Linked DNA regions of Homo sapiens: region 1 is linked to region 2. The links come from fine-mapping of genetic effects on gene expression. Tissue or cell type: monocytes after LPS. Region 2 holds a variant in brackets; the other region holds the start of a gene. All regions are shown on one strand. Distances are from middle to middle.

The links. PIP is the estimated chance that this variant, and not a neighbour inherited with it, causes the effect.
Region 1: it holds the start of MTRR, and the variant in region 2 is fine-mapped to the expression of MTRR in monocytes after LPS (Fairfax 2014, PIP 0.95). The same link has a PIP of 0.9 or more in B cells, NK cells and monocytes after interferon gamma.

Annotation. Positions count from the first base shown.
Region 1 is chr5:7,867,738-7,870,387 of GRCh38, forward strand. It overlaps MTRR (5-methyltetrahydrofolate-homocysteine methyltransferase reductase), which reads left to right and starts at 1,411. Exons shown (of 15, transcript NM_002454.3): 1 at 1,411-1,478. It overlaps FASTKD3 (FAST kinase domains 3), which reads right to left and starts at 1,294. Exons shown (of 7, transcript NM_024091.4): 1 at 1,242-1,294; 2 at 1-459. The coding sequence starts at 346. RefSeq lists silencers at 1,304-1,743, 1,754-1,803, 1,864-1,913.
Region 2 is chr5:7,891,660-7,894,508 of GRCh38, forward strand. It overlaps MTRR (5-methyltetrahydrofolate-homocysteine methyltransferase reductase), which reads left to right. Exons shown (of 15, transcript NM_002454.3): 11 at 1,068-1,254. Among named protein-coding and RNA genes, the nearest start is that of MTRR, 24 kb to the left of the region's middle. The variant G/A (reference allele first, on the strand shown) is at 1,349.

The DNA.
Region 1 (2,650 bases), 24 kb before region 2:
GCACTTCTTCTGATGAAGTCAAGTTGCTCAGTCTCCTGTAAAACATCTGACTCTCCTCATTTTTAACATTTTGTTCAAGCCTGTCGCAGTCAGATACTTGAGAGAACACTGGTCCACCGAGTGGATGAAGGTCATTTCCATTTTTCGAATGAAACTTTTTACAATGGGCATGATGGAATTTGACCCCGAAAGGCTCAGGTTGTCGTGAACACAACCAAGGGCACAGACGCTCCTTGACTACCTTGTGAACATGATTTAGAGGTTTATTTTTTAAAGCAGCCAGAGCTCTATGCATCTGAAAATCAGATAAACGATAAAGGTTCTTCCTCAAGGTGATTAATGCCATACCATCAGATTCTCAATTTGATAACTAAATTAAAAAATTTAAAAACACATGGTTAAATACATTGAGAACATGATTGACCCAACATCAATGTTTATGAAACTACAAACGAGTATCTGGAAAAAAAAAAAAAAAAAAAAAAAGGATGGTTAACATATAAACACCAGAGGGGCAAAGTCTCTGCATCCTAGAGTTAGAAGAGTGGCTGACATTGAACAATAACAATCGCTATTACTTGCTAAACACTGTTGTAGGTATTCTATTAACTTACACAGATTCAGTACTTTTACTATCATTTTACACGAGGAAGAAGTTGAAGCACAAAGTTACTTTGCCCAGTTTATGCAGGTGGTTAAGTGGCAGAGCTAGGGTTCAAACTCAGGCAATGTAGCTCTTAAGGGTGGCCCTTAAATGTTGGTTGAAGGAAGAAATTGCATTTGGATAGAAATCAAAGAACAGGTAAAGTGGGCAAAATTAGGCGAGGTTAGAGCAAGGCAAGGGTAAAAACGCGCTGGAAAGGCCCTAAGCTGTTGGTTTCCCCTCGGTGTCGGGAGAAGGTTAGTGTTGAAGGAAAGGGTCTACTTTGTCAATGGAAACAAGGTAGGAAAAGAAAAAGCAAAACATAGATCAATGAAGGGAGAAGGTGGGGCGGCCAGTCCAGATCTAAAGACGGTGCGGGGGGATTTGGCAACACGTGTGTGCAAGACAGACAGACGGGAGGCCCCGCGGCGCGTTTTCCTAGGAATGAAAGGGACCCGCGGGGCGAGCACCCCCAAACTCGGCGCCCCGGGGACCTGCGCTGAGACACGGGCCGGGCGGCGCAGCCTGAGGAGAAAGCCGGCCAGGTCTTTGACACCCAGCCGGACCAACTGCGCGGAGACCCCGCGTTGACACCTACCGCGCTCTGCCGGGCAATCACTCCGGGTGGTCGCGGAAGCGCCTGGGCGTCGTGGGCCTCCGTAGCAAACGCGGGGCGGGAGCACGACTCAGGGCGGCGCAATGTGATTGGCCCAGGTCCCCTTCGGAGCTTTCTATTGGTCCTGGGTACCGAGCATGGGCGCTGCGTCAGTGCGCGCTGGCGCAAGGTTGGTGGAAGTCGCGTTGTGCAGGTTCGTGCCCGGCTGGCGCGGCGTGGGTAAGCTGCCTGTCGGCTACGGTTCCCGGATTCCGGCCGCTCGCCCTGCACTAATCTCCTGGGAGAGGCGGCCCGGGGCGGGGGTGGGCAGCCGGCTTGCGCCCGTGGTTCCCACGCCCTTCGGCCTCCGGGGGTCGCCGCGGGCGCGGGCTGGGGCTCGGACTTGGCCTTTGGCCTTTGGCTTTGGTGTCCCCGGGAGCGTGTCCTTGGGCTCGGCGTCGGCCTCTGCCGCGGGAGGCCCCTGGGCGGCGTGGGGTCTCTCCTCATGTTCTGCCTTTGGTTCTAGGCGCTTTCCAGGCCTAGGGAAACCGCACTCGGGGACGCGGGGAACTGGGGAACATGCCGGGTTGGGGCGGCGCGCTCCGGGGAACCCGGGACGTTCCGAGCGCCCACCCGGCGGGACGCGGCCGTGAGTTCTGCCCGCGGCCGTGAGCTCTGCCCACCGCCTCCGCGCCGCTTCCGGGGCTGCTGGGGCCCGGGCCTCCGCTGAGAGTCGTGGGAAGGTGGTGCCGGATTGTGGGGCAGTAGCAGGGATGAGGGGTTGATTGATCCTGGGAAGCCCTCAGGATGTGTGTTTCATGGGAAGTGATAGAAATTTTAGCTGTAGTAAGGTTTTCATTATCGTTTCCACCGTTTTCTGTGAGCTGTCAATGTGTAGTGTTTTCATATTGTTTATTCACTCATTCAGATAACTTATCGAGTACCAGTTTCATGCCAGGTGCCGTTCTGGGCGGTTCATTCACCGAAAGCCAAGCTTTTGGTTTGGGTTTCAGTTTAAATCTGTCTCTGCAAATTGACAGCCCACCAATTTTAGCCGTTAGATGAGTATGGAAAAAAATCTGTGAGTGTCGTTTGTTTTACTACTGCTTATCTCTTGCGGAAAAACGTGTTAGTAAAATGTTTAAGTGGATTGGAAATATTTTTTCGTTATATGCACCCGTTTGTATATATGCCCATACACTCACATATTTTTGATTTGCATTAAATAATGAAGGAGAGTATGTGCTTCAGTTACCTTTAGTACTATGATTAGTTTGTTTAGCGTTAGGATCAAATAAGAACCAAGAATCCTATCATTTTAATATAGTTTTTACTTTTATCTTTTTTTAAAAAGAGGAAACCAAAAGCTATTTAAGACTGTTGTGAATGATACTGTGGCTCAAGTTTTGTTC
Region 2 (2,849 bases):
CTCCTCCACATGCTTCCTGTGTCCGTGTGCCCAGCCACCTTCACTGAGTGGCAGCCGGAGGCAGGGGAGACAGAAAAGTTCCACTATAAAACATTTGATGAGTCCGGGCGTGGTGACTCACTCCTGTAATCCCAGCACTTTGGGAGGCCGAGGCGGGCGGATCATGAGGTCAGGAGATCAAGACCATCCTGGCTAACACGGTGAAACCCCGTCTCTACTAAAAATACAAAAAATTAGCCGGGCGTGGTGGCAGGCGCCTGTAGTCCCAGCTACTTGGGAGGCTGAGGTGGGAGAATGGCGTGAACCCGGGAGGCGGAGCTTGCAGTGAGCCAAGATCGAGCCACTGCACTCCAGCCTGGGCGACAGTGATACCCTGTCTCAAAAAAATAAAAAAAAAGAATATTTGATGAGCACTGGCTTATAGGATTCTCCCTGTGGCCTTCATTCCATTGCACAGCCTCTACCGTTTTCCCGTCTGGCTCTCTGTTTTGCCTTTCAGTAATAATACAAGAAGGTGCACCATTCTTTTGGTTGAAAGGGGAATTAAGAATGAACTCAAGTTCTTTCGCATTATTTACCGTGTAATGTGAAAAGAAATCTACTTTTGTAGGGATGTCTTTTAAAGATGTTTTTACTTTGAATTTTTAGTTTTCTCCTTTCTGGGTGTATACTTCAGTCACTTTCAAGTTTTATGATCTTACCAGTAGATAATGTATGGATATTTGTTAGAATTTATCCCCATTTCTTCACATCTTTATAATAAATATTGAGTGAATGAATCCTTTACATGAAGATCCTTAGGGCATATTAGATTTTATAAATATCATCTAGTCCTAGTGCAAGCAAATAAAATTGGAAACTTTCTTGAATAACAAAATGTAGGGTGTGAGAGTGTGAAGGTTGGGGGCAGTTTTTAATTACGTAATAATGGCTTTCCTCTGTGAGGATTTGGAAGGTAGATTAGAGCCTATAAGGAAATATTTCTAAACTGAATAAAAGGATTGGTTTGACCCATATGTGTAGTAGTACTGATATCGAGTTCAAAACTTGTCTGTGTATCTTTGCAGCTCAAGTTTATTTCACCCAGGAAAGCTCCATTTTGTCTTCAACATTGTGGAATTTCTGTCTACTGCCACAACAGAGGTTCTGCGGAAGGGAGTATGTACAGGCTGGCTGGCCTTGTTGGTTGCTTCAGTTCTTCAGCCAAACATACATGCATCCCATGAAGACAGCGGGAAAGCCCTGGCTCCTAAGGTAAGAAATTAGTACCTTAACCTCAGCATTGTTAACTCATACTCTTTGTTTCATTAGAAAAAACAGTGTTGTCTCACCCACATCATTCATTACT[G/A]TCATAAGAAAATTTATGCTGTTCTTGAATTTTAAAATCTCTATTGCAAGAGCAGAAAACTGTTTACTTCCATGTACTCTTTAACTAGTGTGTGTATTTTCTGAATGTATAAAGCATGAATTTTATATAGTACGGTCTTTGCTTGTCCTATTCATGGAAAAGAAGACCTTTTATGTTGATATTCTTGGTACATTGGCCTGGGGAGGGGTGGAGAACTGTCTAGGAAGTATTTAAGGGGGGTGATGAGAGACAGTCTCATTTTATGTTTAAGATGTATACTGCCTCTCAAATAAGTAGTTTTACATTGGGAGTCTGAGGGCAACTAAAGATTAATTTTATATTGTCCAATTTTGGCTAGTAGGGTCCCCGCATCCCTGTTTTTCTGCTTTTGTTATCTGTGGTGTCTGACATCTGAACTTGTGCCATTATTGAGAAGACATATGGCTGTAAATACTTTTACAACACCTAGGAGTAAAAGGTTATGTGATTTTCTCAACAGATTGTGGACACTTTACACTTGGACTCAGTGACATCTTTTTATGTTTTGATACGGCACTCAGCAGAATTTCGAGACCACGTGTGTAGGCAACAGTTTAAAGTTGTCCACAAGAATGGTTGAAATAAAGCAACATTTCAGGCTTTATCATGAAGTCCTCTTTCTTCATAGTAATGAAGAAATCAGTGATTCACTTGGAGTGTTGTCTTAGGAGAAGTTTGGTTTCTTTATTAGAGTTGAAAGGTTCATAGACCTCAATAGTGGGGATTAGGACTTCTTGGGATATACTTGAGAGGATAAGGGATGATTGCTGCTTGAAATTGCCGTTTAACTTGATGTTTTTCCAGTCTGCTGCCTGGAACAGAGAGATGCTTTATTGTGTTCTCTATACATCATGTATTCATTATACATCAAAATATTAGGAACCTTACAGAAACTTTCTTTTTTGAGAAGAAATATTATAGTACTGATATACAAGTATATGTCACTTGGTGATTGTATAAAGATAGCAGATGATCTCCAGAACATTAAAAACAATGTGTGTCCATCATGTATCGTAAACACTAAACATGGGTGCCTTTCACCTACTCCTCCTTTCCTCCCTCCCTCTCTTCGTCCTTCCTTCCCCATTTTAACAGATTTTTATTAACTATCCAATCTATATGCAGTAGAAGTGCAGATATGAAGGATATAATTTAAAACTATCTGAAATTACCTGTGCTTGTGTTGTGTTTTATTACAAATTATACAGAATGTTGACTTTTGCAAGACCTATCACCCACCCTGCCCTACTATGGCGGATAGTACAGTTATTCACAGATTAACCCTGCCACTGATGTTCAGCCTGGCTGTGTGAACAGAAGGACATCTGCCACATCTAAGCAGGAGCACTAAGCCTGTGGGCGTGGTGTAGCTTGGCTCTCTTCTTCCTATCTGCCATGATATTCTCTCCACATAGACCCTCAAGTGAAGCAGTCCCACAGCCTTCGAGGAAGAGAGCCCCAG